Linked DNA regions of Homo sapiens: all the other regions are linked to region 2. Evidence: fine-mapped expression QTL. A gene starts in region 2. Each other region holds a variant in brackets. All regions are shown on one strand. Distances are between the middles of the regions.

Region 1 (5,072 bases), 140 kb before region 2:
TCATTTTTTGCTCCATATTGCAAGTCAACGTGGCAACCCCGTTTTTTTTCTATTATAAACATGTACTATACCCTGGCTCCAAGTCGTTTTGGATGCTGATACAAGATTCATAATGGCTGTCAGAATCTGCAATTTTCCCTTTTGTTTTATGAGGTCAGGCAATATTACATGCACTGATATATTCCATTTTCCCAGCTGAAAACCTTCTCATTTGAGCCCGACAGGTTGAGGGAGTCATGATTTGGCAACCTCGCATGTGAAACACGGTACGAGGGGGCAGGTGGCTAACCCCACGTCCTCCTCTTGCTCTTGTCCACTGGCAACAGTAAATTAAACTGTCAAAAATGGAATTGTCCTGTCATCAACAAAGCTATAGCTTCACAAGTATTGCAACATCAGATATATTTCTAATTCTGCATTTCCCTGCACCTGTAATTTCATCAGAAATTCGCACTGGACCATGGTGAGCAGCTGTCCAAGGGAAACTGGCACTGCGAATTCCTTTAGAGGGTTGACATGGCATTTCAAAGACAGAAATTAATGAACAATTCCAGCAATTTGTAATATATATAAAAAGGGTGTTCAGTGTGAGGTCCTGACCTTCAGCAGGACCCTTTAAAAGGGCAGAAATGCTAACGTGGACATGACATGCTGTGCGGCACAGTGGAAAGAAATTACACACAAGTTACTCTGCAAACAAAACAAAGCAAAACACAAACACCCTGGCAGCAGCCAGTCCACTTGAAAATTACTTAATGGTCACAGAGTCAATTGGCCTAGACTGCTATTAAAAATGTTTAAGATCAGGAACATACTTCTTCAATGGTACTTAGGTAGAAAGGAACTTCAGCCCTTAAGTTAAAATGTTATCCGACAATCCATCTTCCAAAACCACTCTGATTTCTTCCAGGTAATTCTTCCCGGGATATTCCTCCAAGAGAAAAAAAAAAAAATGACTGCCCTCTTCCTTCTGAGGATTTACGCGTGGTTCTGATTCTCCTTCCACCATGGCCTACTATGACCATTTCTGCTGGCCCGGACTGCACTTCCAAGAAGTTACTCCCTTGTAAGTTGAACAAAAGTCAAAGCCATCTCCACCTACCTCCCAAACCGGAGGGTGCCAACTCAGAACTCTTGTGAAGCTACCATAGGGCAAGAACCCTCTAAGTTGTCCTATAAATTTGCAGAGAAAAAACGGGCTTTCCCAGCCCATTTAAAAACAACATAAAGTCACAAGTCTAGTTGTTATTAAATATTGCAGTCAAATACTGTTATAGATTATTCCTACAAAAATGCATTGCTTATCAAACATTATGCTCAAGACAGAAAGTTAAATTGAGATGAGGAATCATTTCACAGCTTAATACAGTCAAAGTGACTCAATATTCCTTTATTAATTCTCATTTAATATCACTTTAAATTGCTGCCATTATTATCCCACCGTAGACGAAAGATTCTGTGTAATTAGTCTGTATTAAGCCCTTTTTATTTATAAGGAGCCAAATAAACAAACCCACTTTAATTACCGGGGCTCCACAATATTGATCTGAGCATCAAAATTTAATATGACTTTATTTCAAATTTCCATATGACTAGTATTTAAATTTCTTCCAGCAATAACAATTTTGCAGGCACAAATGACTTTTCATTCAAAGTATGTAAATTACTGCCTAGCGCCGGGTGCGGAGGCCCTCGGTGCCCACAGCATGTTTACAGAGACCTCAGGGGCCTCCCCGCTGCACGCTTTGCTCCCTAATACGGCAGGAAAAGCCACCAATTACCAAAAGAGACAAAAGTCAACGAAGACAGGGAGTCTTCTCCCTCCCAAACCGTGTTCTCTCCCACTTCAGTACACGGTGTTAACGACATACAAATTTTGAGGTCATTAAGTATAAACAGGAACGGAGCGCCAGACAGGCAGGCAGGCAGGATGTGCTCACGTCAGCATTTCAAGTGCCCTCCTAATCCCACAATGCAAGTTTCGGCATTATTGTCTCAATTTAACTTGCATTAGTACCTAGCACCTTGATTACACTGTTGGGTGGTAATCTTCGCCTGCACATGCCATCATTACTTATGTCAAGCCTCTTGAGTTGTTATGAATACTACGTTGTTTTACGAGAGAGAGGAAATTAGTGCCAGTCCCCTAGAGTTTTGGGTGCTTAGCACAGAGGCACTGCGCAGCCCTCACAAATCCCACAACAAATCCTTGTTTAGTGCCAAATGGAGATAAGGACTTTGCAGCAACATTGGAGCATAAATAACTCATGTCCCTCTTTATTTGTAAATGTCAAAAAAAAAAAATCACCGTTCTTGAATGTTGCTTTTCACACACACACAGCACAACGGGTGTTTTTGGCCACGCAAGCACATACCAGTTGAGTAACACATTCCGAATTAACCCGCAAGACCAAGCTAATACGCAAAACAAAGAAATGTCCACAACACGTGTTTGAGAATTATCGTAAAATGCTGTTTGGGATGGATTTTTAATAAAAATGAACTTATCAAATTCAAGGGAAATGCACTGGTAACACAAGCCTTTCCTCGGGAGGACAATAAAGTGGAAAAAATGGGCTTCACATGTATTGCATTTTCCATGTTTTTTTTTAAATATGATCCACTATGTTGTTGAAAAGAATTATTTTCTGGTATTGTGGGGATTTTTGCATTGTCTGTTTATTCTGTTTACACAGCAAATGAAACCTACAATATGAATAAGTGAACTCCCTAGGGAGCACACGGAAGTCAGAAATGATGTACAGATGGGGACAGGGGCCCATGAAAACAGAATAGAAATTAATGTGCCCTCAACAGTCACATCTGGAATGGAACTGGCCAAATAAATAATTTTGACATTAAAAGAAATTAAAGATCAAGGACCGCAAATAGTAGAGTAAGTTTTTTAAAAAATAATATCATTAGTTTACACTATGTTTGAAATGGCATTTAAAATAAAATAATCAAATGTGCAGGCCAAAAAATGAGGCCTCGATGCATTTCCTCTTTTTCTTTCTTTCAATGGCCAGTAATAACCCATTTGAAACATCTTTCCCACAAAAGAATCTCCATATATTGCCTTCTTAAAGTGCTCTTATTTAAGAAACAACAAGATGCAGTCAAGTTTTTGCATCCTGAAATTGTTCATG[T/C]TTAATTTGGTAAAACATTAAAAGAAATCTCAGAAGGCAGACAGATAATCCTGTGCCTGCTACACAGCAGAGACAGTGGGGCCCCCATTTAAGGGTTCAACACCAAAACTGTGATTCCGTTCACTTCTTTTCTCTTGACCCCTCTGCTATCTTTATTGACGCAGCCCGAAGCAGACTAAACAAAAAGCAAAGGCAGGCTCTGGCAGTATCTTTTTTGAGACTGGGGTAAAGGTCTGTTGGAGACATCATTGTGAAAATGATAAAAGGCCTTGAGGTCACAGCCTGAAAGCCGGGGGGAGGGGGTGGGGCGGCGAGGTGGGGTGCAGGTGGGGCCTGCAGGGGCACCCCCTCCTCCCAGTGAACCACTGCAGCCCCCAACTCCCAAGACAGAGCCACAGGGAGCCACTCCTTTCACTACCCACACCAAGAGAGTGGCTCCTCCACGTGTCCTCAGATGAAGCCAATTTTGAAAAATGGCTTCTGACAGCCCCATAAAACTTGCATGGATTGACCAAATGGGTGCTCCTGAGCCCACAGACTGACCACAAGTCACACATCTGAGAAAGCACGTTTTCACGACTGCTGATTCTGTAAGTAAAGTCCTCTGGAGCCAGGGCAAATTCACCGCCACCAAATCTTCACCATCCACTGCATATGTAAAGAATTTTTTTTTCAGAAGATAAAATATTTTTCTGAGTGTAACAACAGGCATGACTTATTTCAGAATTAAGTGCTAGGCTCTCTGGTGCTTTGGGAAATGTAAACTACAATTTTTACTCCAAATCCACCATCCACTTCACTAGCTTGTGCTCTCCAAAGGCCCCGGCAGCCCCTTCAGATGATGAGCGTCGTAGAGAGTGCTTTGGTAAATCATGCAAACAAGGAGGAGGATGGAGACAAAGCCCTCCCTCTCCCCATTTCATACCATCAGTAAATTGATTTAGAAACTGCTTGGGGTAGAAAACAAATATCAAGCTACAAATGTATAGCACTGACTTTTGAAAAATCTGACCTCTGGCACCCGCAGACACACGCACACATCAAATCTTCTAAGAGGGCACCAGGCACTCCTACCCAGGCCTCCAGCCCTCCACTGCTCAGGAGGTAACAAAGGTGAGAACCTGCAAGAGGGCACAGGGTTAATATCTTCAATCTAGGAGTCTGAACAGCACCTCTGCAAACTACAGAGTAATCTTACTTTCAAATTACATAAAAATAACTGATTATTTTCAATACAGCCCTTAAATAAAAGAAAGTTTTATTCTTCACAGTGTAAGTGCTGGTATTTTTTGTGCCCGACAAGCTGCCCATACAAGAAGCAGTGTGCCTAATATTCTTGCCAACAAAGGCATTTGAAATTAGCAATTGCTTTTAGAAACTTTAATTACAATTTTAAAATGCTATTTCTGCTCTATAATAGATTCCAATTGTTTCAGTATTATCTGGCTTGCAAATAAAATCTACAGTAGATGACAATATTCCCAGGATTAATCACTCTTGAAATTCTAATATGCTCTTGAAATACCAAATAAAAAAGACAGCAATGTTGTTGATGTACTGAAAGCTTCTTGCTTTTTGCAGTTTGCTATTATTATGCATATCCAGGTAGAAAGTTAATTAACCCAAAGCTTAAGCTAATTATGATAGCAGAATGCTATCAACCCAACGCGCTCAGTCAGACAGCTGCCCGGAATCTCACTTGCTAATCATCTGTCTTTGGGCTGAGCATATGGTACATTTTCATGCTATCAGAGAAACAACAAACAGCTGAAAATCATTAACTAAAAACAATGTGCATAAAATCAGAAGCAGTTTTTTATACAGCTTTGTGTCAGACAAAAAGCCAGATCCTTGCCCTATAAAAATTAACGATTATTTTGGTTCTTGTCACTTAAAAATTTTAGCTGATAGTGCAATAAATAT
Region 2 (5,072 bases):
GAGGGTCAGGAAGGACCGTAGCAACAGCCCAAGAGCCGAATGAGCACAGGGCCCTGCAGGGTCTGGGAGGCTCAATGTGTCCCCTGGAGGGACTAGAGTCCCAAACGGAAGTCAAAAATCTCAGGGCAAGTGGATCTGGACATGGAACTTTATGCTGGGGAAGGGGGTCAGAATGAAGTGCAGAAACAAGAATAATGCTAAAGGAAAAGATAATGCAGAAAATTCAGTTTTGCCTCCATTTTTTTTCTATCAAAGAGAATATACTGAAAAGAGCATTAGCACCAAAAAGAAAAATGGAAGGTCTGAATCACTGGCTCCTAAATGTGTGTCCTCTGCAAAACAGAACAGACAATTTAGTAACTTTATTTTATTATAAAATACTGAAAGAGTCAGGGTTTTGGTGTCCTAAGAAAGGGTGGGAAGAGGACTGGAGAGGAACAAACTCTGAGGGGGCAATGGGGAAGGCAAGTTCTTTTTCAGGCCCTTCCTACCCCCTTCTTCCCTGCAAAAGGACAGAGGAGGCCCTGATTGAGACACCTGGGGAGGAAACCCAAACAACGAAAAGTAAGGCCCAGGTGATATCAAAGTAAGACCTCAACAAGGTTCAAGAATCTGAGCAGCTGAACAAGGTGCTACCCAATGTATACCTAGGGCTCTATTTCTTTCAACCTTACTAACAGCAAAGCCTTTTTAAAGTAGTGCCTAATACTATTAGTTAAATCCTTATTTTGATACAGATTTTTTTGTTTCCCCTTCAGGACAGTTTCACTCTCGTCGCCCAGGTTGGAGTGCAATGGCGCAATCTCGGCTCACTGCAACCTCCGCCTCCCAGGTTCAAGCAATTCTCCTGCCTCAGTCTCCCAAGTAACTGGGATTACCAGCATGCACCACCACGCCTGGATAATTTTTGTGTTTTTAGTAGAAACTGGGTTTCACCATGTTGGCCAGGCTGGTCTCAAACTCCTGACTTCAGGTGATCCACCCACCTCGGCCTCCCAAAGTGCTGAGATTACAGGCGTGACCCACTGTGCCTGGCCCAGATTTTTTTTTTTTAATGAAGATATATACATTGAAAAGTACCTGAGTATAGCTCCGTACTGGTGGTCTACTTCATCCAGGCCCCTGACTGTGGCAGACACTACTCCACTATTCAAATTCCAACCCGAGACAGAGGGCCCAGGAAGAAAGACACGCGGCAGAGCAAGGCCAGCTCTCCTCTGCTACTTGCAGGCAGACTCCGGGTCTGGGCAAGTATCCTGGCCCTCTGAGTTAACGTGATATTAACAATCAGCCAGGCTCTTGACGCGGTTTCCTTCAAAGTTTTCACACCCCCACCCACCAGGTGCGCTAAGCTTTGGGTTTTTAAAATCTTGTTCATCTCCCAGAGTGTTTTAGCCATTGAGAGGGCCCTGAAAATAACAAAACCATCTCCTAGACACCTGCCCAGGGATGGGGGAGATGACGGGAGAGCCTGACTTAACAGATACTCTATAGGTTTCTATTTGGATGTCTATGTAAATAACCAGTCTAATTCTCAGCTCTCTGTGCTTAACATTCTACTGAGAACAGCTCTCTGGACCAAGCCGCTTCCCTGTCTGATGATGATCTCAGCAGGCATAGGTTGCACACACATGTACAAAGTCTGCTTTCCAGGACAGAAAGCCAGCTACTCAGCTGAAGCAACTGAGAGCAAACACCACCCTGAGATTTCAGGAGATGATGAACCCAGGAGTGCGAAATACATAGTTCAGAACTCCTCTGCGGTGTTATAACCGACATTACGGTGCCCAGTGTGTGTGGCTCTCCAGCGAGCCTTGCTTACTCTAAGTGTTGATGAATACAGTTAGGGTATGATGTACACAAACACCAGCCATAGTAACCAGAAGGCCCCTAGAACTTGGCCTCCAGCAGGAAGGAAATATGGGACTCTGCCTAAGTATGCTAAAGGGTTGCTGCAAGCCAAGGCCCGCGCAGGGGCTTCTGGAAGCTTCCTGGAGCAGCTGGCGGAGGGAAAGCTGGCAGCATGGAAGGGTAGGAAGAACCCGGGGCCCGGGCCTGGGGCTGGCACCTAGAGGTAAGGCAGGGGCTGCCACGACCCCCGCCACACGCCAGTCCACAGTCACTGCAGCGCAGCCTAGTCCAGGAACCCCAGGCCCGGGGAAAGGCTGGGCAACACCTGGGAGGCACTTGGGGCGCACCTGGAGCTCGCCCGGGATGGGTGGGGGTCAGGGCGGCCCCACACCCGACGGCGAAGTGAGGGCGCCTGCAGGACCACTCGAGGCTGCCACCGTCCCGAGGGAGAGCTCCGCACTCTTCCGGGAGCGAGGCGACCCAGACACTCACCAAGTCGCAAACGGTGCGCACCGCGAGGACCTGCGGGCGTCGGGACGCAAAGCGTTCTAGGGGCGCGGGCTGTCCCAGCATATCCGGGGCGCGGGGGCGGGGCCGAGGGGCACGGGGATGGCGGCGTGGGGCGGGGTCTAGAGCGGGGCGGAGCCGAGGACCTGAGAAAAGCAAGAGAGCGCGCGGGGGCGGGGCCGGGGCGCGCGGGGGCGGAGCTGGGGCGGAGCCCGGGAGGGGCGGGGTGTTCCCGCCCGACCGGGTCGGCGCATGCCCTGTGCGGCGGCGCCGGGCCTGAGGCAGTCTGCGCATCCTCGCTGGACGCCGGCACGCCGGCCCTGGTCCTCCGGCAGCGCCGCTGCCCTGTGCGCCTGACCCGGATGGCCCTTCGGCCGGTACAAGCCGGGCGGCGCCTTCCCAGCTTCCGCCTGAGGCTCTGTGCCTTAGTTTGCCAAATGGCCCGTACCTTTTCCTGTCACAGGGATAGTCCGCGGGCGTGCAAGCGACCTGCCACGTGCCCGAGTGGTCCTGAAAGCGCGCGGGGGTCGTAGGACGGCGCCCGCTTAGTGAGAATCCCGGTCCTGCTCGGGGCGGCTACGCTGAGCCCGGAGCGCGAGTCTCTCCCCTCCTGGTGCCGCTCCCCTAGTCAGGGACCCCCAGACCAGCAGAGACCCTGTCAGGGGGCCGTGGGGGCAGCCTCCAGGGCCTGTGGTGGGCGATGCCGTCCAGGGGCTGCAGTCACCGATGGCCTAGACACTGCCAGAGCCTGACTCAGCCGCTCTCCAGAGAGCACACAGGGTGCCAGGCCCTGCTTGGGGTTGTGTGGACGTTATTAGGAGTTGAATTGTGTCCACCAGAGAAGCTATGTTGGAGTCCTAACTCCCAGTACCTCACAATGTGACCTTATTTGGAGATGGGGACTTTACAGAAGCCATCAATTAGTGGGCCCCTCATCCAGTATGACTCGTGTCCTTATAGGCAGAAGGCCGCTTGGGGAGGAGGATTGGAGGGCTGCACCTGCAAGCCACCAGAAGCCTAAGAGGACAGACCCTTCCCTGGAGCCTTCGGAGGGAGCAGAGGACACTCTTCCCTGGAGCCTTCAGAGGGAGCAGGATCCTAACACACCTGGGTTTCAAACTTCTGGCCCCCGGAAGTGTGAGACAATAGGTTTCTGTTGTTTTAAGCCACTCAGTGTGTGGCACTTTATTATGGCAGCCCCAGGCAATGGGTACAGAAACCATTGTCTCTAACGTGGTTGGCATAAGCACCCCAGGGAGTAGTATCATCCCTGGAGGCTTCGGAGAGGTCACACACCCCTTGGCAGGATCCCATCCAAGGCCCACATGTTCTAAGCCACCATGCTACGGGCCTTCTAGGTTCTGTTTGTTATCTTAATGGAAAGGGGTCTTCACCTTCCCGGTGAAGTTTCCCTGTTGGGATTCGGCCAATGCTCATACCTTCGTATTTGTGACTTGCAGGATCCAACATATTAGCATGAGTGATAAGGGTTGTTCAGAGGAGAACTTCAGCAGGATTTGCTTTGGGATGAGCCCTGGTGACAATACAGGCTGCATCATTGATCCTCTGAGGTTCCCCACCCCGACCCTGCCTTGGATGAGACATGTTTTAAATAGCTGCTTGTGGGAAATAAACTAGGCCCTGAGTACACGATATAATGGTCAAATCAAGGCACTTTTTCCCCACTGAACCTGGACACAGCCTCGGAATCCTTCTCAACACTGTGTTCCAAGCAGCCATTCACATTTAAACTAATGTGGAAGGACAGATGAAACATGTTTGCCCTTGGCTCTGGTTTTTTCCATTAGCCTTCTATAAGACTTCGGGAAACTCGTCTGACTTCTCTAATCCTCAGTTTCATACTCTGTAAAGGAGTCTCATGATAACGTACCCTACGTGTGTACAAACTATCCTTCCATATTAGGGCATGTGTGCATAGGGAAAATAAACCACCAGCACCACACCACACTACTAAGAAATAATGCTATACACCTGGCCACTTACAGCCTGTTACTACCAGGACCCAGTTAGAACCGGGATCTTAATAGAACCAAAGGAAAAACAATGCCGAAATGGAATCAGAGTGCCGACTGATATTCTAACAAGTGTGCTGTTAAGTAGTTTTGCAGTTAACACATGACTCATACGTTTATCTGAATAATATTTTAAGACGAATCCCTAAACTCTTAAGAAAAAGAGACTGGCCAGTCTTAGCATCTCTAATTCCCCACCCTAGGAAAGAAAGGCCAATGTGGTCATCCAAAGGCCCTTTAGGAGGGCCCTGTGGGAATGGGGAGGCGGTCCACGAGAGAAAGTGCTGGCTTCCCAGGGAGATGTGTGGACCTGGCCCTGGCTGTACTGAAAGAACTCAGTCCCCTTGCTGGCGTGGTGGGAAGAACTATGTGAAGGGCCACAGCTACTTCAGTGGTAAGGACTGTGTCAGGGGCTCCAGGATCAGGAGCCAAATAAGGGTCTCAGTGCAGAGGGGAAAGAGGAAAAAGGCCACCACCTGACCAAGGACTGGCCTGCAAAAGACCAGGATTCAAGGATGTGACTGCTTAGGCTGTCTGATGAGCAGAACTCAAACTCACACTCCTTACACCTGCTGGTGCAAGCTCCTCCCTTCATCATGGTAATTTCAAAAACCCAAGTTTTCATCAAGAGCTCCCCACGCCTCTCCCCCTTGTCCCATTACAATCTCATCATCGCCTGTG
Region 3 (5,072 bases), 190 kb before region 2:
TCTGAAACAACATGAAGTCATCAGAACCAAGGATTTTTTTTTGTTATTGTTGCAGCCACAAAATCCAAAGCTAGTGTATTAAGATAACATTGAATGGTACCTATGCCACAGATGGAGCTAAAATGTATACAAGAAATTACAGCGACACCTGGGAGGCCTTGAATGCTACAGCTTACAGTAGCCTACAGGGGGCGTTTTCAGCCTTAGGGTTGGGCACGCGAGCTAAGGGCGAGAACAGCAGTTAAGGACACTGAGGAAGGGGCCATCTAGGCTTCAGGATGTTTGTAAACAGGCTGGAATCCAGCTAGCCAATCAGGTTAATACATTATGACACAGAAATGTGGTGTTAATTTCATTTCAATCAACTAAACTTACTTTCTTGCGAAGATAATTTCTTCCAGGACATGTCAAATCACTGCAGAACTCCAGGATGTGGTGAGCTCCCTTGCTTTTAAAGAGCAGGCTGGGCTTCAATTCTCAAAGCATGATATTAGATATTTAGATATGTGAAAAACTCACTGACGTTAATGGGAATAACATGGACTTTCAAAGCAAGATTTCAAAATGTTGGGGTTAAAAATCCTACTGAATTAGAATCAAATAAGTCTCTAAGAAATACTGGCAAGCTAACGCAGTGCATACCAGGCGTGCTCTGAGGGTCACCTGTCATTCAGCATTTTGGTGTTGCTCTCAATGCATATTTTATAAAACAAATAGAGTAGCAAATCCCTGTGTCTGTTTTAAGGTGGCAAGGCAAGGCGACGCTGTTCGTCATTAGTCAATAATAGAGCTGTGTTAGTCTAATGGTGCCGCTCTCCCTCCCTTGCAGACCTCCAGGGCAATCACCTGTAGAATTATCCCATCTGCTGCAGCGGGAGCCAGAAGCCCGTCTTCCATTTTAGTTCCTTACTTGGGATTCATAGAAGGGGGAAAAAACTCCACAATTAGGTCTTTCAAGAAAAAGAAAAGAAGCAAAAACAAAACAGCATAATAGGACCAGGGAGATCACCTTTAGGTTTTGAAAGACCCCCAGAGATTTGATGATCTTTGGGGGATGGGGGAGAACTACCAATCTCAACACCACATTAAATATACATTTACGAGAATTTCCTCAGCCAAAGAAAATAGGATAGAGGTGCCAATTAGGGAAGGGCCGGTTCAGGCTTTGCACTCATGGGATGGGGGCTCCTCACTGGAGGGTGGCAAATCCTCCCATTCCCAGCATCTCCATGACAACGGGGGCCTCATGAAGTCAGGCCACACTGCTAAGGGTCAGTGTGATGACTCCACACACGCTAAGAGGCCGCAGTCCTTGTGGGTCCTTGGGGGAGAGGGGGTGTGTGTGTGTGTGTGTGTGCGTGTGTGTGTGTGTGTGTGTGTGTGTGTGTGTTGGAGGAGCTGGCCAGCCTGTCCCCCCCCCAGCTCCAGCTCCTCCTCCAGGCTGTCAGAGGCCATTTCTTCAGCAGTCACCACATTTAAAACTCACCCCATCCCTCCTCCCTGCTTTAGAATTCTCCAAGACACTGACCAGCACCTGACTTTGAACTGTATTTTACCTGTTTCTTCTGTCTCACGCCTGCCCCACCTCCACCCCCAGACAAGACAAGGGGCGCCTCAGGGCAGGGTTTATCTGTTTTGTTTGTTGCTCCCCCCCCCACCCCCACAATCCCTAGAATGCAGGAGGTCCTTGCTAAGTATTTGTTACATTAATTAAAGGAAGCTGGTAGATTTCTGGCCTATTTCACAATTACTTGCCAATAAACAGTCACATACATGTGTATTCCTGAATTTTCAATGGAATGCATCAGATGGGTAGGAAAATCCCGATTCGAAGCACTTAAAACCAGCATGAGGAAAGGAAGCTAAGGGACAGTCGTCTGTGTCAACTCTGGGCAGGTAAACACACTTAAATCCCCAAGACAGGGTATCTGTCCCCAAATGAAACACAATTTGCAGTCTATGGGATCTTTTACAGTTACTTAGAACTTGCTAAGTGGTTGCAAATCCCTAGCCTAATTCATAGAGCTCACCTAACTCACAGTCATTGTGGCAGCTTTAGATGTCTTAGAAAATGAAGTGCACTATTTTCGCTGCCTTCTGCGTGGAAGTTCTTTTGGGTTAAGAAGCCCGAGAGTTGGGTCTGAGACGTGTGGAAAAACCCTCCTCCCAGCATGAAAGGAGAACCTTGGGGCCCCCAAATTACTAATCTAAAGGGGAAAGTCAAGCTGGAAACTGCTCAGGGCCAACCTGCCTCCCGTTGTATTCAGTCATCCCTCTGCTCACAGAGAGAAAGACATCTCTGATTGCCTCCTTTGGAGAGGCTTATCAGAAACTCGGTGCAACCACTTGACTCTCACCTACCTGTGACCTGGAAGCCCCTTCCCTGCTTCGAGTTGTCCCTGCCTTTCTGGACAGAACCAATGTACTTCTTACATATATTAATTGATGTATCATGTCTCTCTAAAATCTATAAAACCAAGCGGTGCCCCGACCACCTGGGGCAC[G/A]TGTCATCAGGACCTCCTGAGGCTGGGTCACAGGCGCATGTCCTTAATCTTGGCAAAATAAACTTTCTAAATTAACTGAGACCATCTCAGATATTTGGAGTTCACACCAGAAAGGACATGCCGATGCTGCTTCCAGAGGCCTGGAAGTAGGCCCCACCCCTCCTCACCCTGCAGGAGGCAGTACCAAGGAACTCCCAGGGAGATGCCCAACCAGGAGCCCTCCCATGCTCGGGGCTGAAGCCCATGTTCACTGGGCAGATAGTGGCCACAACTGGTTCCCAAGAGAGGGGCTCTTGCTGCCCTCATGCCATGGATGTTTGTCACCTCCCGACTGCAGTCCAGACTCCACTGAAGATGAGTCCTGGGTGACAGCTTACATAGAACTGTAGTGCCATAGTCCTGAAGGGACTCCAGGAGGGGCACCGCACCAACTACCTCACCTCTCCTTGGCCTTTCACCTGGGTTCCCTGGAATCAACAGTCTGCATCTGTGATGTGTCTGGTTAATTCAGGGGTTGTCCGGTGAAGAGCTTGGCTAGCTGACCCTTCTGAGACCTTAGCTCAGTCCCCAGGCCAGGGCACCTCTGACTGCTGCCCGGCTAAGCTATCTGGGACCGCTGTTGCCAGTTTATTTAAACACGTGGAACTTCTCATCCACGTTCTTTCAGTGCAAAATCAGTGCCTGCTCTATATGGACACTGTGCGTTTCCTCCAGAAACACATGCGCTGTGTGTTTACCATGTGCTTTTGCAAGATTTAGAGAGCATGAGCATGAAGAGAAAATCCAAATCCATCCAAAGTGAAATTCCCTCCTGCTCACGTAACGACAACCCACAGCTATACTGAGGAACAGCTCCCTTCCTGCCTTCACTGTTAAACAGTGATTTTCATTTATATTTTTCTCCTTTTCAAGGGATTACAAAGTGTTTTACAAACTCATCCCTGTTTGTTTATGCCAGTCCCTCAGCCGGGCGAGTCACACACGAACATGCACAGAAGCCACGAGAGCTCTCCTGCAAGGGTCACAAGGAGACAACAAAGGTCTGGACGTTTAAAACTCAACGGGGAAGATTTTCCTGCTCTCCCCACCAGCTTCCGGGATGAGGCCCTCTAGAAGCGTCAGGGTCAGCGCCTTGGAAAATCAGACCTTAATGGGTTTTAAAAATGGTAATGTGTGAAAGAAATGTGTCTTCAACTGAGTCTAAAGACAGATAAACATTGACTTCCAGCCATGCAAACCACTTCTCCGCATGCTCGGAGGCGGCCCCTCCACACCAGGCCAGTGAGGCTGCTCAGGTCTTCACTCCTGGCAGACACACAGGAAACCACGGCAGTGCGCAGCCCTGCATCTGCCCAGGCCCTCCGCGGGGCCCCCACGGGACTGTGTCCCACCCCTACACTGGCTGGGGAATGGCTGCAGTGCTTTCTTTCCATGCATACCTCCGGGTGGGTGCACAAACGTCCTTAAACCAGGAGCACCTCGGTAGTGTGCTGACACCAGGGATGAGGGTGCAGCGGTCACCCTCTCCATCGAGCCTGAATGGTTTCCTCCCACTGCTGCTCCACAGGCACTTCCTTAGATGCAAGGAATTTGCAAAGACCATTATAAGTGATTTCCACTGATTTTCAGTGGGAAATCCCACTTCTCTGAGTTAGAAGAATAGTTTTCTTCTCAGGCATTTGTAGAAACAAGTGACCCACTGTGGCTTGTGCCGTCACATTCCAAATGCCCATACAGCCCCCCACCCTCAGGTATCACGTGTCATGACAAGGGGCCTAAGGTAGAGGTATGGGCAGGAGGGGGCCCTTGTCCTGCCTGCCAGGGCCAGACAAGCTTCCCGAGACCCCGGCCACCTTCCTCATACCTCAAGAGGCTTGCACACCCCTGCCTCCTCCTGTCTCTCCAGGGACTTACCCACCCATACAGGCCCTGTGCTCCAGGCAGCAGGTCCCTCACAGCCCTCCAAGCAGCCAGTGGGAATGGGGAATGCCCTATCTCAGCCCCCGCTGAGGCTGGTGTCTCGATCTGAGGTTCACAGTGACGGTCAAAGGATGCAGGCTCAGAGTGAGCAGGGGTATGTGATTTCTGTCCACTTAACACAATACCAAACTACATACTAAGGCACAGAAGGTAAAATATGAGCACCTTCTCTTCTACCACAAGAGGCTTCAAAGACATGGGAGAGTGTGGCAGGTGCCCGACCCCGCGTGCAGGTCCTCCAGGTCCCAGGCCTGTCTCTGTACCCGACCTGGGCACCTGCTCCACGCCCTGCACCCCTTTCCATCCTCGCCCTTCCCCAGCATGGATCTTCAGGTCTCTCTTCTCATGAAGCTGAGGTCTTGCCGTCTTCTCGGATCCCAAACCACAGATGGGCTACCTCACCATCCAGCTTCCCACCTGCATCTTTATCAGCACAGCTACTCCAGCTGCAAGGCGGGGGTCGGCGAGGCAGCCACCGAGGTGGGCAAGGACAGACAGGCGTGGAGGGTGCAGTAGTAGGGTGTGGCCCTCGCTCTGGGCCAGCTGTGCCCAGCACAGGCCGCAGTCTTGTCAAGGGGGAGGTGGGGT
Region 4 (5,072 bases), 240 kb before region 2:
TGAGCTAAATGTTAAAAACCTGGCTTACACATGCTGTGGTGGGGAATCCCAGCCCCCACAGCAACCACTAACCATCCGCAGGCAGGCCTGGCCCAGGGGACTCCAGCCCCTACCCTCGAGAGAAGGCCCTGAGCTCAGCACCCTGGGTCTGCAGCCAGCCTCAGAGTTCTAGAACACCAAGAGAGAAGGATGTGAGCGGCTGTCGCACTACCATCCCAAAACTTGGCTGGAGTGGACCTCGTCCCAGCTAGAGGTATCCACCCGCACTGTAGGGCTTTCCAAGAGGGGCAGGGCCACGGGGGAGCCAGACAGCCTTTACCAGTATCCTGGCGGCTACTCTGAGGTCTTCCTGGTCACCAAGACCTATCATGACCTGCCAGCCCAGGAAGCAGCCTGGCCTGGCGTGGGCTGAAAGCCAGGGAGGCAGGGGTAGGTGTGGCCAATCCCAACTCTGCTTAAGCACTAGGGACTTGACTGAGAAGCCCCAGGGGCCCGCCTGTCCTCGGCTCTAGGAGCAGCAAACACTGCCATGGGCAGAAGTGAGGGGGAAAAGGCTCAGCGGGGGTTCAGTGCTTGCAGGGGTGGTTTGGAGAGTGTCTGATTATTTCCGGTGCCACCTTCCTTGCTGGCCACTCCTGCCCTGGAGCTCCTGTCAGCAGCTGCGGAGGCCTCCTCCTCCGGTTCTTCCTGGCCTGCCTGAGAGCACACCACTCTCTGGACCCTGGTGAGACCAGGCCAGCAGGGTCTAGCTCCATGGCCAGGGCCACCATATGACTTGGAGAAAACTAACGATTTTCATGGAACTTTTGCCCCTATGTTTTTCATGAAGTTGCCCAACAAACCTTAGGTAAACTTCAGGGGTTTGCAGGCTCATTCTCCCAGCCTCCATATGATTATGCAGATACCTCCTGCCCTGGTTTTGTAAGAGAACTTTTCTGTCCTGAGACCTTACATTTCAGCTCACATATTTCACAGGCTTAAGGAGAAGAAAAGCCTCTGGACAGCTCTTCAGCCTTGCTCCTCCTGGCAGGCGAACCCCCAAAAAGAGATCGTATAGAGAAGAGTTCACCACTCTAAGATCCCCAAGCCCCAACTTTAATAAACAAAACCAATCTCTGACTTCCTTGGGCCATTCAGCAACATCCTGCCCTGTGCCCGGCCCATCAGGTGCACAGTGAGCAAGGTCCCCCACACCGTCTAATTGGCTCACTGGCTTGTGGCGCTGGGGAGAGGTGGCCCCCAGCTGGCGGCAGCCCAGGAGGCTTTGGTAGTGCCTTTGTCCTGGCAGCAGCCCATTGGTGGGCAGAGATGATGAGAGGTTTCTTGGACGTTTGTGGTTCCATGTAAAGGCCCACCCACTCTAGCTTCCTATCTGCCCATCCTAGAGATCCCCACTGAACCCTTCTGGAGACAGTTCTGTATGATTCAGAGGACAGCAAGGTGCCTGGTTCATTATAGCTGCACAGCTTCAGTTCATTATGCACAAAACGTGCTCATGACTTCATATGTTCGCCTGTCTGACTTGGTTAGTGAACTCAGGTATTAGCCCAACCTTCAGGGGTTTCTTTACCTGCTTCCCTTGAAAAGTTCTCTCCATTTTCAAGTTTGTTTTGTGCTGAGAAGCACCGCAGCAATTAGAATACTGTTAAGCTTACCCAGCAAATCTGATCTGAAATTCAAAATTGCTTTAAATTCACCACATCTAAAATCTCAAGGTAATTTTTCCCTTTAAGGATATATAAGTGTACAACTCCATATATACATCATATATGAATATATGTTCATTTATACACAAAAATGATTATGAAAAACTCACTATGCAAAATAAATTTCTGGCATGTGTCTGGAATGATTTTAGTTGCTGTAATTAATTTCTGTATTGAGCAGAGCCAAACACAAGCTTTAAAAGAAATGTCTGGGAAATGTTTTAGATTATCACAAGCCTTAAGCAGGCTACATACAGGTAAGTTCTCAAGTCATCTCTTAAGAAAGAATATGTCTAACTCTGGTACGTTTGAGAAATTAAATGTAAAATTATTTGAGAAGCTCCAATGCTGCTACCTGCTATGATGTAAGTGTCACCAACAGAGTGTATGGAAATAGCTAAATGTCCACGCACAAGTCTCGTTTTCTGTGCTGTTGGCAAGCAGATAGTTGAAGTTCACAATAAGCTTATTGAAAAATTTACTGCCATTCAGATGTGTTCCTATTTAAACCTTTCAGCCAGCGAGAGTCAAGAGTCGATCTGCATGCTTCATTTTTATTGCCTTTGCCAAGAATTATGCAACCCTGTGCCAAAACTAACACAAGTGTTGGAGTGGGTGGAGGCGGCGAACCCCCGTCCCTCCAGCTCGGCCAAACGCTGCCTCTGTTTAGCTGATGTAAAAATACCAAGTTGGTATACTCAATAAAATGAACTGTGATGTCAGCGATCGTTAATAAGTCAAGCTCCCCAAAGGAAACACCGCAGATGGCTTAGTTACCGACCTTGCTGGAAAACGGGATGGTGAAGAGCCGGCACGGGGAACTCTTCGATAGCCTCGGGCTGGTGGAAATAGGCATTCAGCCAGGCTGTGCACTGCATCAGGGGCTCCGGACCTCC[G/A]AGAACCGCAGCGGGGGCTGGGACCTCCACGGCACTGCAAAAGTGAGAACAGGGGCTTAGTAAACCTCTGGGCCCTGCCTCCACACATCGGAAAAGCAAACACCTACTGCATCTAAACGGGCAAACACCTGTGGCTGCTTCATGGGCACACACGTCTCAACTAGCTGTGCAGCAGAAAGGGGGACTGGTGAGGCAAGGACGCACCGAGGCCCCGCAACCACTCTCCACCTTCAGGCCTCCCAGGACGTGTGTTCTGAGAGTCTGCATCACAGCGCAAGGCAACCCAAGTGACAGTGTCCCTTTGTAAGACTTACAGATGGCACGGCTGCACCTAAATCATCAAGCACTCACTATTGAAAACAGTTCCCAGAAATATCGACACAGTCATTAGACTGCACCACACGGCCCACCCCACCCCGAGTCCAACAACGCAAGGCCACATCCACGCGTTCTGCCTCCTCCATGGCCGTGTGCTGTGTTCAGGGGATTCCTCAGGGTTTACCTGCAGTCCCCTGATTCCCACGCTCCAGAGGGCCTACTCTGTGTTTCCTTCATCGGTGAGTCTGTCCTCTCGGGGGCAGCCCTGTGCCTCGTGTGCCTGTGTCTACTTGGTTCTTTCTCAAACCTTCCTGGTGTTTGTTTGTTTGTTTTGAGACGGAGTTTTGCTCTTGTTGCCGTGGCTGGAGTACAATGGCTCGATCTTGGCTCACTGCAACCTCCATATCCCGGGTTCAAGTGATTCTTCTGCCTCATCTTCCCTAGTAGCTGGGATTACAGGCGACTGCCACCACGGCCAGCTAACTTTTTGTATCTTTAGTAGAGATGGGGTTTCTCCATGTTGGCTTCATCACGTTGGCCAGGCTGGTCTCGAACTCCTGACCTCAGGTGATCCGCCCGCGTGGGCCCCCCAAACTGCTGGGATTAAAGGTGTGAGCTACTGCGCGGCCCTCTTGGTTCTTTCTGGACACTCTCCTCCCTTTGATTTCCTGCAGTTTGAACCTGTACCTCTGGGAGTCGCTTCAGACTGTTTTGTGGCTGCTTCTGTTTGGGGTGTTCATTCATCTGTGGCTTCGACCTGGTGGGCCCTCATGGAAAGGATTCCCCATCTCCAGCAGGGGTGGATTTTCTGGGGCTGTGTTCCACGGACTGAGGACATGGCCCTGAAGGGGAGGTCTCCCGCTGCCACCTGGGGCTGTGGAGTGCATGACACATCCCGTTGTGATTTCAAGTGCTGTGGACCCCCGTGGGAAGCCCTGGCCCTGGGTCCGATTTCTTCAGGTGACTCCCTTCCTTCCTTCCCTGCCTCTCGAGGCCCCAGACAAACGGCATGCTTCCCCGGGACTTCCCAGGCTTGGAGCACGGAAGTTTTCTAGTTTCCTTCTGCAGACAGTGCTGCTCCTCAGGCTTCTGTGAAAAGGTGGGAAACGTCACTGCACTGTGGATGCTGTGGACGCACAGCTCCCGCGGGCCCTTCACCCTTCCTTCCTGGGCTGCCTTGGGGGGCGTGCGCTGAGATCTACAGAATGTTTCTCCTCGACACACCCATGCTGCTCTGGGAGGGTCCCAGTGAAGGCTTCACTTGCCTGGACATGTGGCCCAGCACAGGCGGCCGATGCAGCCGGGAGCACCGTCCCAACTCTGTCCACACAAGGTATGCACGGCCAGTCCATGGAGAGGAGGCAACAGAGCCATCCCGGACGTAGGACAGACAGTGTGAACGTAGACGCAGAGTGGAGGCCTCGGGGACTGAGACTCACAGAAAGGTGGGCAAGGACTGTGCGTGTCAGGGCGGGAAGGGCACTTTGTCCTATGAGTGCGGCCCACAGTGTGACTGGTGGGGGCTGGGGGCCCCTGGCAAGAGGCAGAAGGCACCGCAGCTGCCCTGACGCAGGGCTGCAGCAGTAAGAACATGGCAATGGTGCAGGGAAGAGCTGGAGGACCATGAAGCTGGGGTCAGGGATGACTCTCAGCTCCAACCCCAGCTCTGTGCGGATTCAGCCTGTCTGCCCGGCCCTGTGTGGATGGGGCTGTTGCCCTGGCCCCGTGCTGATTCTGCTGGTCTCCCTGGCCTTGTATGAATGAGGGCCTGTCTCCTGGGCCCCGTGCAGAAGGGGACCTGTCTCCCCAGCCCTGTGTGGATGGGGCCTGTTGCTACCGCTGGTGTCCAGGAGGACCACAGCCCCGGAGCTGCAAACAACTGGCATTTCACTTTGTATCACAGAATTGGAGGCTGTTTTAGAAAAGAAGATGTAGTCACAACTTCTTAAAACACCTTCACACAAAGAGCTCAGATGATCTCTGGAGCGATTAGTTCTCGCTTTTCCTGTGAGGTAAAAACCAAGCTTGTACAAATCTGAATAAAGTCAAAAGTACATAATGAGGCAAGAGATAAAAGGAAGCCGAACACCTTCCTTATAGTTAAAAAGGTTTCCTCTCTTATGCAGTTAAAGCGGAAATAAAGATAACTATA
Region 5 (5,072 bases), 630 kb after region 2:
AAGCTCTCTGCTTTTTCTGTTTAAACAATTCTCTGCAAACTTTATGTTCCCTAAGTTTGCCAAGCCCCAGAGCTTCATCCATGTCTGATTTGAAAAGTGGTGAGTTTTACAGAGAAGGGAAAGCAGAACAAAAGGAAACATGTCGCTTTTGTATTCAGCTGTGGACTTGCTCTCCACTCACTTGGAATATGGCACCTAGAGGGTAATCTGTTTGCAAATGGCCCTGAAGCAGCCTGGCCTCACCGTGATGTTACCAGCCCACAGATGCATGAGGGAACACTTGCCAGCCACTTGGGCCCTGGTGGTAGAGGTGGCACTGGCTCCCACCAGGCTGCCCTGAAGAGCGATGGCAAACTGATACTCATTCACTCCTCCCACTACTGGCCAGGTGTTAAGTGCTCATTGTGGCTTTGTTTTTCCCAAGATGGCTTCATCTTGGATGCTTCCAAGTAAGCTTGGCTATGCTGCCTTGGCTGTGCTGATGTGGGCCTATCATCAACGTCACCAGCACCATCCGGGGATACTTCCTGTGTGCCTGTTGCCAACTGTTGCCCATTCAACAAATGGTCCTTTACTGTCTGCCGTGTGCCAGGCCCTGTGCTAAATACTGGGTGGATGGCCACGCACAGCCTCCTGGCTCAAGGAGCATGTGCTGCAAGGAAGCAGAGAAGCACAGTGTTTCCAAATAAGACAAACTGAGCTATGCTGGAGGGAAGGACTAGGTGTTATGGGGCCAGGAAGGGGAGCACAGAGGTCCAGCCTGGCAGAGGCATCCAGGAAGACTTCTCAAAGCAAAAGGGAGGAGTCAAGATGAGCCAGGTGGGAGGAGACAGTGAGTTCAGGGAATTCTCCAAATGTGGGTCCAAGGTTAAGGTCAGATGTTAGGAAGGAATCTTCCTCTGTCTTTCCCTGACTGGGACCCAGCTGAGGTTTTGGATTCCCTCCTGTGGAACCAGTGGAGAGTGGGACAGATAATGTTCTCCTTGCAATGATCCTCTGTAGGTTCACCTTAACTAGCCCCTCAGAGGATGTCCTGCTTGCCCTGCATTCCACCCTGTGCTGCCAGGAGCCCCTAGAATCAAGGCCCAGGAAATCAGCCTGGTTCAATCTGGGGCACCGTGGATCCAGAACAGGACCCTCCTGGATTTGATTCGGCTTGGCATCACTACACAGTCGGGGCCTTTGAATATTCTTTTATCTAATATTATTCTATTTATTCATTTACCTGACATTTACTGAATACTGATTAATGATGACGATGATGCAATAGAGAGATAGATAGGTAGATGGATAGATGAATGGATAGATAGATAAACATTAATTGAGTCCTTATATGTAAATGTATTAGCCCAAAGCCAGACACATGGTATTTATCTCTTTTAATCCTTACAACCATTTTGTGAAGTCAGCATTAAGCTAATTATGCAGAAGGGAAAACTGAGGCTTAAAGAGGTTGAAGTGACTTCCCTATACAGCCAATCAATGGTGAAACTTGGATTCCGTCCCAGGCAGCTTTAACTCCAGAGAGATGGAGATGGGAGTGCTTTCTTGGTGGAATAAACCTGCAAAGGTTCAGAAACAGAAGCTGAATTTAGAAGAATGGCAAGCGGCCCAGCATGGCTGATCACAGGCCCAGTAAGGAACTAAAGCAAAGAAGGCTAGAAAGGTGGTTTGGGGAGATCAGGGAGGGCCCACAACGCTACACTAAATAGTTTGTTTTCCTCAGTAGGCAATGGAGAGCCACTGATACTTTTGAACACAGAACAAAGTTATCCTCTAGGAAGGTTAATGCTGGGGTATATCAGTGTGTGTAATTTTGTTTAAAGCACTTTCATACAAAGATCAAATGCGAAACTAAGTAAGATGCTTCATCTCACACTGAATATGCTAATAAGAAATGCATGGTTCTGGGAGGTCTGCTGTGTTCTCCTGGGGAAACCCACACTCCAGAGCCAGCTCCCACTGGCATTTCTATTACCTTGATCTTGATCAATATAACCAATGATCTCACAGCTAACACAATCTGTCCATCAAGCTAGGCTCAGCAACCCCAAGATCTTTGGCATGTACTGTTGTAAAACTCATTTTTCACCTGTGTGAAGCCTGCTGTCCGACAGCGGCTTCCTTTGTCCTGCCATTCTGACGTGGGCTTTGCATGGCTTAGACCCTTAGTTCCCACCAGACAGCCAGGCACGCCTTCATATTTCCAAGCTGCCTTGGACTTCTGTAATCATAGGGAAAGACGGAAAGAGTAGCAC[A/G]GTGATCATCCATGCACTTGTCTCATGCATCTGATCGTTGTTCGTATTTCCCACATTTGCTTATCTCAAGTTATTGCTCCAGCTGAATCTTTTAAAAGTGAGTGCAGGCATCATGCCACACTTCCCGAAACACATCAGCATGCAGCTTCCAAACACAAGGACTTTCTCTTACATAAAACACCGTTATCATAGGTAGGAATGGTAGTAATAATTCCCTAAATTCATCTACTATTTAGCCCATACTTAAATTTCTCCAGTTTTCCTCAAAATGTCTTTGATGGTTTTCTCTTTCAGACAGAATCCAGTGAAGGACCATGAACGGCTTCTGGCTGTTGTCACTTCTGAGTGTCTTTTGTCTAGAGCATGTCTCTCCTATTTTTTGTGTGATGTTGTTTTGAAAAGACCAGGTGCCTTGTCTTATGCAAAGTCCCACTGCAGAGTTTCTCTGATGGTTTCCATGTGGTGGGGTTTAACATTTTCTTCTAGCCTCTGAATCTCCTGTAAACAGAGGTTAGGTATAAAGGCTTGACCCAAGGTAAATATGTTTGGCAAAAATAGCTGGACTTCGTGTGGTCGAACTTCATGGGCACAGGACAGGTTTCCCCATCACTACTGAGGCTGCTTAAGATAAGAACTGCTATATTTTTTCATGATAAGTGTGCATCTTTCCATTAGCAATATATGAGTGATGGTTTTAGTCTCTATTGATGGTCCTTTCCTGAGTCGATCATATTTTGGGTGAATGTAAAATCATGACTTTTTCAAAAAAGGAATGAGTTTATATTGCAAACTCATTTTGCTACATAAAAGCCTACACTGTCATTTTACTTATGATCTTGTACTTTATTTATTATTTTGGTGTTTTACAGGGAAGTTTCAATACCCCCTCCTCCTGTTCTCTGAGATGTGTCCAGTTGTGTCCCTATGCACTTCAAGAGTGACTTAGGCTATATAGCAAAAAACCTTTCTGAGCTAATCGTGGATATTTTCTTGTCCCTGAATTGTTGGTTAATTGTTTTGCAAGTAGCTTCAGTTCCTTTGATTCGAAGTGCAGGGCAGAAAGCAAAAGAAGTTTCAGAAAAACTGCCTGCCAGTCTTTAGTGCACCAGCAGCTAGCTTGCCTGTGAGCAGCAGGAGATGCTGGGCAGATGGGAACATCTCCATGACTGGAGGAGCTGGAACTCTGCAGTTCTTCTCAATTCATGGGGCTCCACACTCGCTTGGCTCCTGCCCTGACCCTGGGAGACAGAAAGACCTCGCTGGAGGACAGCGGGTGGGGCTACTAGGGAGGCTGGACTCTTGGCATCAACCACAGGTCCTGGCGTGGGGGGTGATTCCTGTGCCCAAACTCCTTGGAAGCAGCAGAGCCACTTGCCTCCAGGACCTTTCAGCTGGGCCTTTCTCTGACTTCTGGCGTCACCAAGCTCACAGGATTCTGGTGCTGCCCCAAGAACAGAGGAAGGGCTCTTCGATGGCTGAGATTGAGCACCCTGCAGTAGGCAAATTTGGAGCTTGGAGTGGGGCCTGTGATGAAAAGGATGCAAAATGTGCTGTCAATTTCATATCTCCCCCTAAAGAATCATATACACACAGACCTTGAACGGAACTTGAGGAATGAACTACCCCAAGCCCCAGTCTTGGATACACTGTTGAGTGACACATCAGGTTGATTGACCTGCCCTGGTGCTGCCCTGGGCTGAAGGGGCATAGCCCCCACTTGTCATCATTGGGTGCCAAAAGTCGGCGTGTCCAAGCTGTAAGGCATGAGAGAGATGATGCATGCCGCCCCCTTCCTCTTCCAGGGTAAAATGGAGGCTGCAGAAATGGCACAACTTGGCTAGGAGAACTCAGCGAACTCTGGAGAGGATTGGCATGGACCTGGCATCTCGCTTCTAAGCCCAGAGCTCTTTAGGCTACACCACACATGGATCAGTCTGGCCAAAGATGGGGAAGAAGAGCAAGAGACCACCCATCTCCCTGATGAAGGGTCCCCGAAGCCTTGGGTCCATCAGGGAATATAGAAAGAGCAGGCTGATTTGTTTGGAGATGTGCCTCCAAGCTCTTAAGTTACAGAGTTCTAAATTCCAGTCATTACCACTAAACAATTGTTATTGGGGTTTAACCATATAGCCCTCTAATCAGGGTATTTCTGCTTTTATTTAATGGAAATCATTTCCCTGTGGCCCTGAGGGAGCAGGTTTCCACGTGCCCTGTCAAGGTGAGTGTGCTGGTGCCATCTGCCACTCAGAGGCCCAACAGTCCAATATTTTTTTGCCCAGCTGTGCTATAGTGAGTACAATAGATTTAAGGAGGGTTAGAAACCTATTTCATTTGCAATAAAATGCCTGGGAGGTAGACCTGGGAAAGTGTAGCCAGAGGCCCCTGGGGCCCACCCTCATGGAGTAATGTTTGGACCAGGCTGGAAGAACTTGGGAACACATCAATAGCTCTTGTCCTCCCCTCTACCCCTGCCACCTCCTCTTCTTGTTTGAGAATTCGACACTGATCTGTAGTCAGGACTCAAAATTAAATTCTTCTGCATTATTAAATTGAGTATTTGGCTTAATATTTAAAAATCTGAGACCAGTTGAGACCCAAAAGCACTCCATCAGTGCCTTGTGTTCCTATTGAAATTAAAAGCTTGGTGAAAAAAAAAAATGCAGCTGAAGGCTGACTGCCCCATGTTCCCTGATGGCCACAGTCTGTTTATGGGTCTCTGAGCATCTCTTTCCAAGCTCGTGTTCTAAGCTCCCTCAAGCCTCCTGAGTGTATTCACCAAAATGGAACTGGAAAGTGCCAAAACTGGAATCCAAT
Region 6 (5,071 bases), 170 kb before region 2:
TTCCATGGCTATATATTTTCAAGAATACAAATTATTTTTGTCATTTATGTTTTACTCTGTTAATCTATTTTACTTGTTTTGTTATTGTGTATTCACCTTTTCTATCTCTAACAAGGCTGTTAGTCTTAGAATCTATTTTACATATCATTATAGCTATGCCAGTTTTCTTTGGGTATTTTCCTGACATGCTTCTTTCCATCCATTTACCCTCAAAGTTTGAAAGTCCTTATACTTTGGATAACCTTTGAGTGGCGTATATTTGGATTTTATATTTTATTCCATTTTTCAGTCTTTTTCTTACTGGTGAGTTTAGTTCATTTACATTTATTATAATTGTTAAGGTGTAACTTTTGAGGCCTTGTGAGAATAGTTTTGCCAAGCCCTCATATTTTAAAGTTTTAGCTGCATATAAAACTCTGTTCTAAGTTATTTTCCTTTAATACGCTGAAAACATGCCTCCATTCTCTTCTTACATTCAATATTGCTGTTGACAAATCTGAAGCCAATATGACCACTGGTTCTTTATATGTGTTGTTTGTTCTTGCTAATGTTTTAGATTTTTCTCTCTATTCTTAAATTTCACTGTGCTCTTCTAGATAGACGTCAGTTATTTTTCTTTTTTTTTTCTTTTTTTTTTTTTTTTGCCTCTTTGGTCCTCTCTTGGACTTCTTATTCTTAAGTCTTTCATGTGTTCTTAATTCAAGGAAATTTATATCCATTATTTCTTCAACTACTTCTTCCTGGAGGGAATGTAAGATGGGAGACATCCATCTGTTTTTTGAACCATTGTTCTTTAGTTCTCATGGGACTCATACAAGATAAGTAGCCCACCTCTCCACTTCAGGAAAGCTGTATAACCACCGGGTTGAGTTCTAAACCGTTACAGATTGGTGTGTCTAGGAAATTTAGATGAAGTTAAGTGAAACATGTCACATGTCTCCTTTTGAAGTACATAAAGCAGGAATCCTGAGCATATGTTCCCCTTCAGCATGAGCCAGCACCTGCCAACTGGGAAAATGTGCATCTACCTAGAATTTCAGCCTGAGACCAGACTGAGCACTGCAGGAGGCACTCACTCTCCCGCGAGTGCAAGGCTGGCACTTGCTGAATGAATTTGCTCAGGCTGCCATAACAAAATACCATAGACCGGGTGGTTTAAAGAACAGACATTTATTTTCTCACAGCTCTGGATGCTGCAAGTCTAGGTTCAAGGTGTTGGCAGAGTTGATTTTCTCTGACGCCTCTCTTCTTGGCTTGCGGACGGCCACCCCTTGCTGCCACTTCACATGGTCATCTCTGTGCACAGAAGCCTATGGTATATCTGTGCCCTAATCTCCTCTTCTTATAAGGACACTAGTCAGGCTGAATTAGGGCCTATTCTAACAACCCCAATTTAACTTTAAGTACCTGCTTAAAGGCCCCATCTCCAAATACAGTCACGCTCCGACGTACTGAGGGCTAGGGCTCCAACATGTGAATTTGGGGAACACAAGTCACTTGCACAAATCTGAGAGTGACAGCCTCCTTCGATCCTGCCCCCTAGGCAGATCTCTTACCTCATCTACTCTCAGCCCTCCTAAAATCGTAATGAAAATTCATTTTCAAGTGGTTCATTCTGCCAGAAATTAAAAACAGAAACCAGCCTGTGTTGAGCACCTACATATATCCTGAAGCATGATCCCAAGTCGTCTCCATTACTCTGGATGTAGGAATTCTAAGAAGGAGAAGAGCCCCATCGCACAAGAGGGCCTTGGCTTTGAGGAAGGCCCTAAAGTCAGAGGACAGGGTGGGCCCATCTGCACTTACACCAGGCTCCTAAGACACATCCTTTTTCCATTTACAGCAGTTTTCTATTCAAGGGGCACTAGTTCTCCCTGGGAATGACAAAAACACTCTTGAAGGCACTCATTAAGAGGTGTGAACTCCACTTACACCCAGTGGAGCTTTTCAGATACGCATTATGTTACTTGTCACACCACACTAATTAGTGACAAAAGGTGCTTCTGCCTAAACAGGTCATTGAAAATGTAAAATATGTGAGAAACAAAAACACCTTTATTCAAGAGAAGCAACCCTTGGAAAATCCAACAGGTTTATAAAGCCTCTGACTTAGACAACTCGAGTGTGGCTGCTCTTGTCAATTTAAACTCGGCTCTATAATTAGAAAACAGAACTTTCAATGTTCATTTAATGAGTTTAAAATCTAAAGATACTTGAATATCATTAATTGTAGACTATTTTTCAATTGTATAATTCTGATTGACTCAAAAGATTATATAATTTATGTTCACATACTTTTTTAAACATTTTCTCATAAATGCAAATATGAAAATGGCCTCATTAAAGAAAGAATAATATAATTTCAAAAAGATCTTTCATTCTGGGGGAAAATGGGTATCCACAAAACAATCTATAGAGTTCACAGGAAATCAACAGTGGAATGCTGAAAGCTTTTCCTCTAAATTTAGTAACAAGACAAGAATGCCCATTATCACGACTTCTATTCAAAACTGTATTAAAGGCCTAGCCAGAGAGCCAAGACAAAGAAATAAAAAGTAAAACTGAAACAATGACTATCAGCATTAAGGCCTTCTTTCAATGACAGTTGCTTAGAGGTATGATTCACCCCAAACTGGGCTATAAGCATCATTGCAAAGACCCCTTTTCAATGATGCAAATGAGAAGAATCTCTTCAGAGCCAACATTTATTGAGTGCTTACTGAATACTAACCTCTGTGCTGGTTATACGTGAATGTGTTCCACTCTTACAGCAGTCCTGAGGGGGTGTCTACCCACTTCTTCAGGAATGGTTCAGAGGTGACGATCTAGACCAAGGTCAGTATCTCCGGCTGGACTCGGGTGAGAAAATACGAGGCACTTTGGGGGTTTCTACACCACAAAAATTTGTAACCAGAGCAAAGT[G/C]TTGTGAAGGTGAACGTTGTACTTCATCCATGAATTTCTGAGTAAGCACCTTATAAATCTTAACTAACTTGAGAAAAAAGAAAAAGAAGATAACTCAGAAAACCACATTCTATCTTTTTTCAGTTCAAACATATTGGCCAAGAGCATGCATATTTTAAACTAAAAATATGTAAATTTTCCAGTGCCTGTTTTTTGCCATAGAGAACACACATCCACTCTTGATATATATTCTGGAGTGATTACAGCAGGAGCTCCTTGCAGCTTGATTAGGAGAATCTGTCTTATTCTCATCTCTGACAGATGCAGGCCTGGTCTTCCCGTACCAGCTTGTAAGAGGGTCCTCAGTTTACACTGTGAGAGTCCTTTGGAAGTAACAGACATGTCTGTCTATTGCTAACAGACATAGGTGACCACTAGTGGCTCCCTGCCTCAAAAAGTGCTATCGATGATCAGAAAGTTTAGGGGAAGCAAATTTCTTTTTAAAACTTCATGTAAATACTATAATAGCACAGCTTTAAATTATGTATCTTACAATTATTTTTTAAAAAACACCCCAGCACTTCTGTTTCCAGGCAAGATAAAATAAGTAAGAGACAAGATTGACCCTCTCACCAAAAAGAACCAAAAAGAAAAAATAAATTAAATAGAACACACTTTTCAAGAAACTGGAGAGCAAAGTACAGAGACAGATGAGTGACAGAAAACCAAGGAAGAAAAGGCTGCGACTGCCCTGAGAGTTCCGGGCACCCGGAGGGGCACACAGGAAGGGCCTGGCCAGCTCCCAAACTGAGGGGATGGAGCTGTGAGCCCGGAAACCAGGACAGGCAGAGTTTGCAGGACAGAACTGGAGGGACAGAGACACATCTCAGAAAGAGGAATCCTGAGATCTGCAACAGGTCACCCTCACATATTCATCAGAGTACTGATGGGCACCGCCATGTCAGGAAGCTCCCCCAGGCAGGAAAAGAGCTATCTGTGAGGATGACAGGGTGGTAACCGCTGCTCTTGCAGGGCTGGGAGCATGACTTTTCCTGACAGCCACACTGGAATGCCTCCTATTCACAGACCATCCGGGGCGAGCTGAAAAGGGGGCTGGCCTCAGTACACTGCTCTGGTTCTACCTAACGAATCTTAAAAGCAAGACCCAAAAGAGTCAAACTATTCCCAAGTAATTTAACTGTGACTGTATCCCAGAACAAAGCTCAAGGAAATCTATCAGAATGCAGAAATAACCAGAACTCAACAAGGTAAAATTCACAATACTGGACATGCAATCAAAGATTACCAGGCACACAAAGAAGCAGGAAAATATGATCCATTACGAAGAAATACACCAGTCAATTGAAATGGACCTAAAACTAACTCAGATGTTAAGATTAGCAGACGAGGATGCAAAAAGTTAATGTAACTGTATTCCAGACATTCAAAAAGTTAATTAGAATTATAGAATATAGTAAAAAAAAGATCCAAAGAGAACTTTCAGAATTAAAAACTAAAAAAACCTACAATGGAAAAATACATCAAATGAAAATAATAGATTAGACACTGCAAAAGAAAAAATTAGTGAACTTGAATATATTCCTATAGAAACTACACAAAATGAGGACAGAGAAAGGAAATCAAAAGGAAGGAAGAAAGGAAGGAAGGATTATCAGTGAGGTTTTGAAAAACTTCAGGAAATCGTACATATCTGTAGTTGGAGTTTCTGAAAGGAAAAGGAAAAAAATATATTTGAAGAAATAGCCAAAATATTTTCCAATTTGATGCAAACTGCAAATGCACAGATACAAGATGGACAGTGAAACCAAGTAAAAGACACATGAAGAACTGCACCAAGATGCATCACAATAAAATTGTTCAAAAAATTGATAAGGGGCCTTACAACCTACCAGAGGAAAAAATCATGTCACACAGAGGCACAAAAAGATGAGGATGACAGCAGAATTCTTAATGGAAACAATGCATGCAAGAGGGCAGTGTAGCAAAATCTGTAAAGTATTGGGAGGAAAAAAACCCTGTCAATCTAGAATTCTACACCCAGTGAAAATACCTTTCAACAATCAAGAAGCAATAAAGACATTTTGGGCACTAAAAAACTGTAAGAAGTCACCTGCAGTAGACCAGTGCAATGAGAAAGGGTGAAGGAAAC

The links.
Region 1: its variant is fine-mapped to the expression of MGMT in whole blood (INTERVAL, PIP 0.97).
Region 3: its variant is fine-mapped to the expression of MGMT in whole blood (TOPMed, PIP above 0.99).
Region 4: its variant is fine-mapped to the expression of MGMT in whole blood (INTERVAL, PIP 0.92).
Region 5: its variant is fine-mapped to the expression of MGMT in anterior cingulate cortex (GTEx, PIP 0.95).
Region 6: its variant is fine-mapped to the expression of MGMT in lung (TOPMed, PIP above 0.99). The same link has a PIP of 0.9 or more in esophagus mucosa, fibroblasts, skeletal muscle, subcutaneous fat, sun-exposed skin and testis.

The regions. Positions count from the first base shown.
Region 1 is chr10:129,603,118-129,608,189 of GRCh38, reverse strand. The region is part of intron 2 of MGMT (O-6-methylguanine-DNA methyltransferase); the gene reads right to left. Among named protein-coding and RNA genes, the nearest start is that of MGMT, 140 kb to the right of the region's middle. RefSeq lists silencers at 3,432-3,521, 3,602-3,681 and enhancers at 4,175-5,072, 4,854-5,072. The variant T/C (reference allele first, on the strand shown) is at 3,150.
Region 2 is chr10:129,464,568-129,469,639 of GRCh38, reverse strand. It overlaps MGMT (O-6-methylguanine-DNA methyltransferase), which reads right to left and starts at 2,399. Exons shown (of 5, transcript NM_002412.5): 1 at 2,344-2,399. RefSeq lists silencers at 2,100-2,299, 2,320-2,759 and an enhancer at 1,611-2,533.
Region 3 is chr10:129,653,993-129,659,064 of GRCh38, reverse strand. All of the region lies in intron 2 of MGMT (O-6-methylguanine-DNA methyltransferase), which reads right to left. Among named protein-coding and RNA genes, the nearest start is that of MIR4297, 190 kb to the left of the region's middle. The variant G/A (reference allele first, on the strand shown) is at 2,505.
Region 4 is chr10:129,705,459-129,710,530 of GRCh38, reverse strand. MGMT (O-6-methylguanine-DNA methyltransferase) reads right to left here. Exons shown (of 5, transcript NM_002412.5): 3 at 2,488-2,636. LOC105378560 (a long non-coding RNA gene) reads right to left here and starts at 2,481. Exons shown (of 2, transcript XR_946467.3): 1 at 1-2,481. The variant G/A (reference allele first, on the strand shown) is at 2,603.
Region 5 is chr10:128,834,009-128,839,080 of GRCh38, reverse strand. No RefSeq gene overlaps it. Among named protein-coding and RNA genes, the nearest start is that of LINC02667, 76 kb to the left of the region's middle. The variant A/G (reference allele first, on the strand shown) is at 2,259.
Region 6 is chr10:129,634,002-129,639,072 of GRCh38, reverse strand. All of the region lies in intron 2 of MGMT (O-6-methylguanine-DNA methyltransferase), which reads right to left. Among named protein-coding and RNA genes, the nearest start is that of MGMT, 170 kb to the right of the region's middle. The variant G/C (reference allele first, on the strand shown) is at 2,923.